2 separate regions of the Homo sapiens genome follow, and region 2 is linked to region 1. Evidence: fine-mapped expression QTL. A gene starts in region 1. The other region holds a variant in brackets. All regions are shown on one strand. Distances are between the middles of the regions. Region 1 holds the start of SLC29A3 (solute carrier family 29 member 3). Region 2 has its middle 25 kb from the start of CDH23.

Region 1 (5,373 bases):
TATGCAACTGCAACTGGCTGGCAATGCCTGGCCTATAAGCAGCTGTTGAACAAATGTCAGCATCTCCCTGGCATCCTGGGCCTGTCGCATGGCTGGCTGGCTGGCTGCTGAATTTGGCTGTAAGGTAGCATGCCTGCTTCTTTGCTCTACATAGCACCTAGGATGTGGCAGCAGCTTGATAAATGAGAAATGTCTCCAAAATGCTGAGGATGGGACACTTCAGAGTCCCTTCTGCAGTAGCCTCTTCCCCACCCAATAAACTAATAAATAAATGCATCTTGGTTTCTATAGGAGGCTAAGCCTAACTCAAAGCATCGTACCAAGAAGACTGGGGCCTTTATTCCCTGGTGGGATGGGAACACCTCCTCACATGGGTGCAGAACCTTATCCACTATTTCAGGAGAACCTCAGAGCATCCCTTGGAATTAGGCAGGGCAGAAAACATTGCCCCCTTTTTTCAGATGGAAAAACTGAGGTCTGGAAGGCACTTGCTATGTCCCACAAATAGAAAGAACTCCCAATAGCTAAACTTAAGTCCAGTGATCACAAATGCCAAGGTCTGTGCCTAACAGAGGTCACACTTGAGGCTGACAACAGCCTAATATATTAGGTACTACTCTAAGACCCATTTCACAGAGGGGTCTGAGGCTCAGAAAGGTTGAGTAACTTGCCCAGGGTCACATAACTAGTAGATGACAAGAGTGAAGTTACACAGCCAAGCAGACTGGGGCCCATGCTGGACTCCTCAGCACACCGGGGAGGACTGGCTGGGAATGGGAATCTGTGTCTGCTGGTTCCAAGTACAGGCATCCTTCCTGCAAGCCTTGAAGCCAGTGAGTCGGGAGGGGCCCAGGCACACTGCAGGCACCCTTGTCAATGTTTGCTGAATGAACGGACTCTGCACGACCAGGACATTCTCCCCTGCTGGGGTAGCATGTACCCTGGAGCCAGCAGGTGGGGGGCCACTGGATGCCCAAGTGCAATGCATCCAGCCAGCAAGTCTATTTTAAACTCCCCTGGTTAGCAGAGCCCCTCCCCAGCCTGGATTCGCATGGAGGCCAGCATTAACAAGCTCACTGTCTGGAAGCTCACTGTGTGGAAAATCGCTTTTTCCACATGCACCCACTCATAGAGGAAAAGCCATGTGAAGGCACAGCAAGAAGGAGGCTGTCTGCAAGCCAGGAAGAGAGCCCTCATCAGAAACCAAATCAACCAGCACCTTGATCTTGCCCTTCCCAGCCTCCAGATCCATGAGAAACAAATTTTGTTTAAGCCACCCAGTCTATGCTATTTTGTCTGGCACAAAATGGTACAAATGTAACAAGCTCACTTGTTACATTTTAAAAATTAGTGTTTAAAATGTAAAAAATAATCATGACCCACCCACATAGAACAAGAGAGAACCGGCAAGTGGTTCTTTCCAGAGGCTCCAGCTACCTGTGGGGGCGGCTAGAAGGTCCACCAGCCCTGTCACTCAGGACCACACCTGGCTAGGGCCCCCTTCTCAGTTCCTAGCGTCTATTTGTCAAGGCTTGACTGAGCTTCTGAAGAAGGAGCCAGGAATTTTCTCTAACCAGGGTCACAGGCCAGGGCACTGGAGTGAGCAAAGTCTTATTAGTCTTTATAAAAGCTAGCTGCTGGCTTCTGGATTAAAAAATAAAGAGAAAGGCAGGCAAGGAAGTGCCCAACCTTCCCCAAAACAAGCTGGCTGTGGCCTGGAACGTGCTCCTGGGTCACCTGCGGGAGCCCGGCCATGCACAGACAGACAGCCCCACACAAGGAGGCAGGCACTGCTGGGGCCGCGGCAAAACCTCATCTGGGCTGGGAAGCCTGGGTGCTGGTTCCAAGGAGGTTCCTGACTCTGGCTAGGTGGCTCGCCCCTCTGTGCCTCGATCTCCTGGGCTGTGAACCGGGGTGGGGAGCTGGTAGGGCTAACCTGTGGGAAGGCACTGGGAAGCGCAGGGCACCGCCTACTGGCCGCGGCAGAACCGGCTTTGCGGTGTAAACAGCCCCAGCCTCAGGCCCCGCAGCTGGGACCGAGAGAATCAGCCACCGTCTGGATACTTCGGGCCGACGGGTCCATACCAGGCCCCCACCATACAGGCGGTGAGGTCCAGTCTCAGGGAGGAGGAGGGGAGAGGATTTGGGGAAGAGAAGATAGAGACCCAGAAAGAGGGGTGGCAGAGAGCAAGGAGAGAGAGGAGGGACGGTGGGGAAGGGACCACGGATGGGGTAGGGTCCTGCGGCTCCCCTGGCAGCCCGCAGCCGCCCCCAGGGCCCGGGAGGGAGGTCGCTGAGCGCGAGTCTGGGGGCGGCCGGGACCGTAGCCGGAAGAGCCCGAGCCGGCCCGCACTTACTGTCGCCGCTGCGCCACGCCGCCGCTGCCTCCGGCGCACGGCCAGGACCACTGGGCTTGGCAGGCGGCAGGCGGGCTCCTCCCCCGGCCCCGCCCCGCCCCTCGCGGCAGCACGCCGCCGCTTCCCCGTTTGCAAACACGCTTTTTTCCTTTGTCTTCTGCCGGCGCGCCGGGGCTCCCCCTTCTGGCGCTGAGCTGGGGCCTGCGTGCGCCCATTTTATAGGAGAAAAAGTGAGTCACCCAGTCTTAAACGCACTGCCCATGCTTGCGATGGGTGCGCTGCGCATCAGGCCTTTTGGTTGCTGCTCCTTCTTTACCTTGGAGCCAGACCCCACTGTCTCAGACCTCCCCTTTAGCTACTATAACCTGCACCCCAGGACTCAAAGGAGCCCTCATCTTGTCCCCAGGCCGCTGCAGAGACCCCTCTCCAAAGGCCGCTTCTACCCTTACCGGCTGCCGCTGCTCTGGAGGTGAAGCGGGACCCACACCCGGACTGAACTGGGCCTCCCAGGCCAGGCAGCTATTTTCAGTAGACCCAGAACATGGCAGTCAGCAATTCCAGCCCTCACACTTGACCTCAGCCATAGCGTGTAACACACAGCTGCCGCGTGTTCTTTAAGAAAGCAGGGGCCGGGCGCGGTGGCTCACGCCTGTAATCCCAGCACTTTGGGAGGCCGAAGCAGGCGGATCACCTGAGGTCGGGAGTTTGAGACCAGCCTGGCCAACATGGCGAAACCTCGTCTCTACTGAAAATACAAAAGTAGCCGGGCATGGTGGTGCGTGCCAGTGATCCCAGCTATGTGGGAGGCTGAGGCAGGAGAATCGCTTGAACCCGGGAGGCGGAGATTTCAGTGAACCGAGATGGTGCCACTGCACTCCAGCCTGGAGCCTGGGCGACAGAGCAAGACTCCATCTCAAAAAAAAAAAAAAAAAAAAAAAGGCGGAAACCTTCCTGACTCCCGGTCCTGGCCCAGTTGGCCTATTCAGAGCGGGGATCTGGATGCTTCACAGGGCCTGAAGATCTGTGACCATGGATAGTAAATTCTTGCAGTTGCCATCCCAGGGCTCAGGGGTGCCACAGAACCCATTGAGGCTGTCAGTGTGTGGACAGGTTCTCAGAACATCCCCACTCCCTGCCCCAGCCTCTCATTTTATAACCACCATTCCCCAAACACTGGCCTGATCATAAAAGTCTCGAGTACACATCCAGATTCTGGGGACCTCTCCCCAGGAGGGTTGCTGCCACTCCCCAATCCCTGAGGGTGGTGCTGTATCTGCTTTGTTTGCTCTTCCCTCATCGTGGGCACATAATTTGTGTTCAATAAATACCTGGATTAATACAACCCATCACTCAGGGGGTGCAGAATGGGGATCCAGAATGGATCTATTTAACAAGCTCCACCAGCAGGCGAGTTTGGAGACTAGCACCCTAAATTGTCAGAAAGCCCCCCGGCCCAGGAGAGGAAGGGGCTTAGCTCCAGGCTTACAAGCTGAGGGATAATGGTAAAATTACTAAACCTCTCTGAAACCCAGGGTCGGCTTAGGACTGTCGGGAGAATTAAGTCAGGTGATCCATGCCAGGCACTCAATGCAAATTTCCATCACTTCCAAGGAAGACACTCCCCACCCCCAAAATGTGATAGTGTATATGTTAGTTTAGTCATCAGGCCTTATTTTTAGCCTCTTTACGTTGGAAAAAAATCCTCTAATATACAGAGCATTTTCATGAACAGTCTCCCATTTGATTCCACCCCCCCACCCCAGTACCCAGTGAAATGGGACTGTTGTCCCCATTTTACAGATGAGGAAAGCCAGGCTCAAAGAGGTCAAGTGGCTTCCCAGGGCACACAGCTGGCAGTGATGGAGTGGCAGAACCCAGAGCCAAGGCTCTTTTTGTCATGCCCGGTTACAGGCAGGCAGGTGAGGCTGAGGGGAGCTGGGACAGCACGAGGGACAAAGCCGTAGGATTCAGTGAGGGCAGCAGATCAGGGCTATTTCTGGTCCAGCCCCAAGACCATGACCCATGTCTGTGAAGCTCCGGTGCTTTGTCACTTGATTGCTTTTACTTCATGCAGAGTCCTGAGTTGTTTGTAGTCATTGTTATCTTTATCTTTGGAGAATGTGCATGTATGTGAGTGAGTGAGACAGTTTCAGGACACCTGCTTAGAGAATCAGAGGTGCCAGGAGCCCTCTTCCAGAGCTCTGAGGCTGAGGTCTTTCTCCAAATGGAGGAGGCGCCAGCCACTTGGGGATTTGCTGGTTGCTAGGGCTGAGTTCAGGAAGGGGCTCTGGGGATGGCCTCCATCATGAAAGCAGAAAGCCGTGGGAGGAAACAGGTTGCTAATGCATCCGTGGGGCTGCTTCCCGGACAATGTGGGCTTGTCTTCTCCTCCAGGATCTAGGCGGATGGCGGTGGTAATGTCTAGCTTGGGGACAAGATGAGTCAGGTACTGTTGGGCACACAGCTTCCCAGGGAATGTTTGAGGCTTTGGGGGATCAGGGAAGGAACAGGAGAATGGGGGTCCAGAGCCCTGAGCTCTGAGTCTGCCCTGGCCCCTGACCAGCAGGCCCTTCAGTGACCAGGTAATAAAAACATTTACCCTGACAGATGATCAGAAAAGAGGGAGATTGGGTCAAGAAAGGGAAGTAGAGAGGAAACAGAATAAAAGTGTTTTCACAATACCTACTTCATAGCAGCGGACTCCAGGGAGGGGAGGGATGGGGAGGCTGGGGTGGGCAGGCCTCAGAAATTGGCTGGGTTCCTGTCCCTTGCCTGAAGTTATCCTGAACATTGCTTTTGATAAGTGCTATAGGAGCGGAAAGGTAATTTTTTCTAGCCTTCATGAGGTAGGGTAGACACCTGAAACAATCTTGAGATTGAGAAGAGAAAAACAAACAGAAGTTTAGTAATGTGTATATGTCATGTGCACTTGGGAAATACTCAGAGAAATAAGTAAATCTCCAAAAACCACGGCTTTGAGTTCAGGCTTAAATGCCATCTTCAACTGAAACAAAGA
Region 2 (5,373 bases), 53 kb before region 1:
CCCCAAGAAGCAAGCGGGGAGCAGCTATTCTCATCTTACTTTCTGGAGCAGGAGAGGCTTGACTCACAGAGGCAAGCGACCCCATTTCTGGACCAGTCTCTGCACTGTCAAACAGTGTCTGAATAGGAAGGGGATGTTGGAAGAGGGTTTTACATGGAGCAAAACGTGGATAATGACACGCTAGCGGCAAGCCAAGGAGGTTAGGGGATCCAGGTTCTACACCAGAAGGGGCCCAACTCAAAGTGGTGAAGTCGCTGGCTGCTGCCTTTCACCAGCTGCCTTTCTCCCGCTGCCAGCTGAGGACCTGCACCCTTCCAGGATGGAGATGGGGACAGGGGCAGGCAACATTACTCTTCTTGTAGTTCTCTGCCCAAAAATCTAGGCTTCTCAGGCCTGCTTCCCACAACACACACACACACACCCCAACATGGAGCCTCTTGGCTTACCTTCGGGTTACCATGGCGGGAGCAGAATGGAGCTCTATCTTCTTACCATGAAGTTACACAGATATCATTATCTTGAAACCTCTTAAGAGGTAAAAAGGTGGCCAGCCATTGACCAGAGAGGACCCTTGGCCCCTGCCTATCATCTGTCACGCATGTCCTGAGGGGGTGGGAAATGGTTAAAGGGAGAGAGGAAAGGGAGCCCCCTAAATCTCTACCAATCCTGGCTATATATCCTAATAAGGCTCAGCTATGCATATTTAGGAAGACAGAGGAGAGGGAAATAGGAAGAGAGGTACAAATAATGAGGAAAGCAAGAGGTCTGCCTGGCTCAAAGGAAGTGAATTCAAACTTCTAGTAATGAAAATGGGCCCAGGACAATAATACAAATGGAGGCCCTATACCAGGTGTTTTCATATGTAAGTTACACATCAATGACTAAACTTAAAATATCTTCTCCCTTCTACCTTGACACATATATACCTTTATAACAACCTGGAAGGTCAGGTTGGAATCTAGAATTCTCTGACTTCTCAGAATTCTGCTCAGTCCCACATCTAGAAGGGTCTCCTGTGAACGAATGTAGATATCCCAACCTATAAGTCCCAACTCTGCACCCCTTGCAAACAGCCATTCCTTGCACCCAGGTGTGCCCTTAGCAGTCTGCCCTTGGGGCCATGGGTCTGGGAAAAGGCCTTCCCAGCCCTTCCTTATAGGTTCAAGCCCATTTAGGCAAGGGATTCAAGTGTCCCACGTACCCAGAGCATGGCAGAAGGGAAGAGGGCTGTGAGCTCCTGGTTATCATGTCCCTTTGGTCCTACAGACTCCTTGTCCCATAGGATGGGGTGCAAATGGATCTAAGGGCAGGATAATAATAAGAGCTAATATCTGATACGCTTTTTGCAGTTCACAAGGCACTCTGACAGGATCAGAATGTCGAGGCATGCAGGATTAATATCTCCATTTTACGGATGAGGATACTGAGGTTCAGAGTTCTCTGATTCCAAGCCCTGTGTCCTGACTCCCCTATTTCAAGAATCGAGGTGGCTGTTCCTTACCCAACAGGGCAGAGCCTGAGGTTCTTGAGCAGCAGAAAGCAAGGAAAGGGAAATTTCCCGACATCCTCACAACAGGCCAGGGCCAGCACACTTTGACATTTGACCTGTCCTATTCCTTTCTCCCAGAGCTTTATAAGCAGAAAGCAAGCCACAGACATCTGTCTTCTGAAAGACAAGGCCAGAGTTCTGCATTCGTAATTCACACAACATTATTAGAAAATGCAGTCAATTCAGTTTCTGTTTGAAAAAGTGTTGCTGGTTGGTAATGGCTCATTTCCCCTTTTTGAGTCTCAGCAAAGACTCAGAAAATGAAAAACAGTTAACATCACCTCAGCAGCTAATGAATTCCAGAGGACAGATAGGAGGTGTGACTACACCCTGGTAGGAGGCAGCCCCGCACCCCTCACCCACTGCTCCCCAGTTACAGGAATGCCTGCGAGGGGGTGAGATCACAGCGCCTTCCAGCCTGTCATCGCACGCATGCCTTGAGACTTGCCCCTCAGCCTCACTGTCTCGCCCCCGCCCCTGTCCCTCCTCCCTCCTCAATATTGATGGTGTTGGGCCTCAGCTGAAGGGAGCAGGTGGGAAAGACACAAGTGAGGAGTAAAGCCACCAGGCGCCAACCTTGGGGCGTGGTGAAGAAGATGAGCTTGGCACTTAAAATGCAAAGGCCCTGCCCTGAATCTGTGATCATTTTCAAGGAAGGTTGAGTGAGTGTCCACAATGCATTAGCTTCATTAAAGACTTTCCGGTTCCTGAGGCCTCAACTGGAACAGCAGCAGATGAAGCCCTCACTTTCTCTCCCCGGGCCAGGTGTGAGCTGATGACAACCCCTCATCACTCTTTGGTTTAGCACAGTGGTTCTCCTCGTGGGGTTCTCAGACCAGCAGCATCAGCACCACCTGGGAACTTGTTGGAACTACAAATTCTCAGGTCCCACACCAGACCTATGGAATCAGGGACTCTGGGAGTGGATACAGCAATCTGCATTTACCAAGTGCTCCAGGTGATTCTAATGAGGACTGCTGCTATTGTGACCATCAGGCACTTGAGTCTTGGAGTCAGGCAGACCTGGGTTTGAATCTCAGTTCTGCCACTTAGCAGCTATGTGAGTCTTAGTTTTGGCACATATAAAATGGGGATAATAATCCTTCCACCTAGTGACTGAATGGATTAAGTAAGATTATGCATTCACTTGCCCGGTTCATAGTGCTCAATAAGCAGTAGTTCCTCTATTTCTCTGGAAATCTGATTAGACAGAGGGACTTCAAGAAGTTCACCGTGAAGATGCTAACAGGCCAGTTCAGGTGTGTGGCTCCTGACTCACGCCTAAAGCCACCTCTTGCATCCTGTGACCGATGACTGGTTCTCACTACTTAACCAGGACTGAAACTGTCGATAGATCTGGTTTATTCCCCAGCTCTCTAAAAGGAATCCTCCTGCCTCTGAGAGCAGTGTGCAGACTTCCTCTTTGCAATGATTTCATGAAACAGCAGGACCTGCTGCACTTGCAGGCAGAGCTCTG[G/T]AACTGGGCTATTATTTCTGTCGTTCTTCCTCATTGAAAAAGTGGTCAGGATAACCTCTGCCCTGCCAACCTCCAAGGGCGATGGGAGGAGAAGTAATCATTTAGCCTGGATGGAGAGCTTTATATGGATTAAATCATTTAATCTTCACAACAATCCCATGAGGATAGACACACTGTCAATCCCTTTTACAGATAAGGAAACAGAGACACAGAGAGGTTAAGAAACCTGTCCAAGATCACTGACTAATAAGACATAGAGTCGGGGTTCAAAATCAGGCAGTCTGGCTTCTAAGTCCCTGCTCTTAAGCACTGTGCTCTGTCCATTGCTCTGTCCAGGAACACCATTAAACAGGACGGGTCACTGTAGCTTGGCACCCAGGGGCTCGGAAACCTTGGAATGCAGACCTCTTTGACTATCTGATGTAAGCTATAGCCCCTCTCCCAAAGCACAGAAACTTCTGCATATGATCTCAGGGGTTCCATGAATCCCTCTTTCCACCCAGAGGCCCCAGATTAAGACCCACATAAGACTCTTAGAAGGAAGTAGCAAGGACATCAGAAGTCTAGAGCCATGAGAACATTCTGCCCTGGTTAAACTCCAAGGAGTGGGGCGGGCTAGTGCAGTAGTGATGGAGGCCGTTGGGTGAAAGTGCTGGGAAGAGGACCTCACATCCTTCACCCTGGAGTGAGTGCATAGGAAGTGGGCTAGGAACGTGGGGGCTTTTTCCAGAATCGGAACAGCAATCAGTAAGACCTAGTGCTTGATGGATCAGTATTCACTACACTTTACAATAATCTATCATACATTTCAAAATAGCTAGAAGAGAATCATTCGGGCCAAGCGCGATGACTCACACCTGTAATCCCAGCACTTTGGGAGGCTGAGGTGAGTAGATCGTTTGAGCTCAGGAGTTCGAGACCAGCCTGGGCAACATAAAGAGACCCTGTCTCTATTAAAAATTAAAAAATAAATAATAAAATAATTTAGATGTTTCTAGTATAAAGAAAAGACAAATATTTAAGGTGATGGCTATCCCAATTGCCCTGATTTGATCTTTACAAATGATATCAGTGTATTAAATTATCATATGTACCCTGAAAATATATACCTCTATTATGTATCAATAAAAAATTACATTAAAAACTGCAAAACAATGGCACTTTTCTCACCAATATTTTGTTTTGGAAAATATAGTTATATTTCATTTTTTTAAAAAGCTGGGCACAGTGTCACATGCCTGTAGTCCCAGCTACTTGGGAGGCTGAGGTGGGAGGATCACTTGAGCCTAGGAGTTGGAGGTTGCAGTGAGCTATGATTGCACTTCCGAACAGCCACTGCACTCCAACCTCAGCAACATAGCAAGACTCCATCTCTTAAAATATATATAATAAATAAATAAACAAATAAGAAGGACAGCACTGAGGACGTTCAATCTCCTTGGGCCTCCGGAACTTAAATCTGTTAGAAACTGCTGGTCAGCACAGGCCTGGTGCCAGCTGGTTTACAGTAGCCCAAGTATGGTCTTGCTGAGGGGCAGAGGTTGGACTTGGTGGCCTCAGGGCCCCACCAGCTCTAGGCATATGTTTTAAGTTGGGAACAGAAGGCATGGTTATCCTAGAACTTCATACTTTACTCTTCTCTGTGTCTGCGAAGGTGGACCCACCCACGGTTCCTTGGCACGTTGGAGAGGACAGGCTTGAGGCATGTGGCACCTGAGATCCAGATGGTGAAGCTCTCTGCCTGTATCACATGCTCTGTAAATCTTGCTCTTGCCTTCATGAACCTTATGTTTCAAGTGCCTATAACATCTGCAGCCTTGGGTATTGATGACCAGTGACCCATCAGTGCCACCATAGAAGCACTGAGGGCAGGCTGGGTGGCCCCTGTCCCTCACACCGGACAAGTTCATCCTGACTCTGCTTCTCCCCCTCCTTACCCTGTCTACCCAGCATGTGCTCTGGGCGTCCTCAGATCCACAAACCATGTAAACTGGAAGTGCCCTTCTCAATCTTTTAAGGCAGCAGGGTGAAGAGGAAAGACAGGCTTTGGAGCCTCCTAGCTCTGGTCTGAATTCTAACATGGTCTCTTACTGACTTAATCTTTCTGAGTCTCAGTTTCCTCATCTGTAAAATGGGGATGACCCACCCCACCTGGCAGGGATACTGTACATAGGCAGAGCCTGACCATAGTAGCTGCTCAATGGTCAGTGCCTCCCTTTACTTTGATGTAGACCACACTCATCCTGCTGCAGAAGCAGGGCCTGCTCCCAAGCTCATGGCCAGCAGTGGATTGCAGAGCCCAGGTTGGATTGTTGCTCTACTCTGATCTCCTTAGCAAACAGTCATT

What was found. PIP is the estimated chance that this variant, and not a neighbour inherited with it, causes the effect.
Region 2: its variant is the best candidate, but not a certain one, in a credible set for the expression of SLC29A3 in prefrontal cortex (GTEx, PIP 0.54).

Annotation. Positions count from the first base shown.
Region 1 is chr10:71,316,295-71,321,667 of GRCh38, reverse strand. SLC29A3 (solute carrier family 29 member 3) reads right to left here and starts at 2,409. Exons shown (of 6, transcript NM_018344.6): 1 at 2,358-2,409. The coding sequence starts at 2,358. LOC124902445 (a long non-coding RNA gene) reads left to right here and starts at 2,005. Exons shown (of 2, transcript XR_007062183.1): 1 at 2,005-2,106; 2 at 2,764-3,699. RefSeq lists a silencer at 2,163-2,612.
Region 2 is chr10:71,369,569-71,374,941 of GRCh38, reverse strand. It overlaps a transcript of SLC29A3 not described here. Among named protein-coding and RNA genes, the nearest start is that of CDH23, 25 kb to the left of the region's middle. RefSeq lists an enhancer at 1,559-1,608. The variant G/T (reference allele first, on the strand shown) is at 3,027.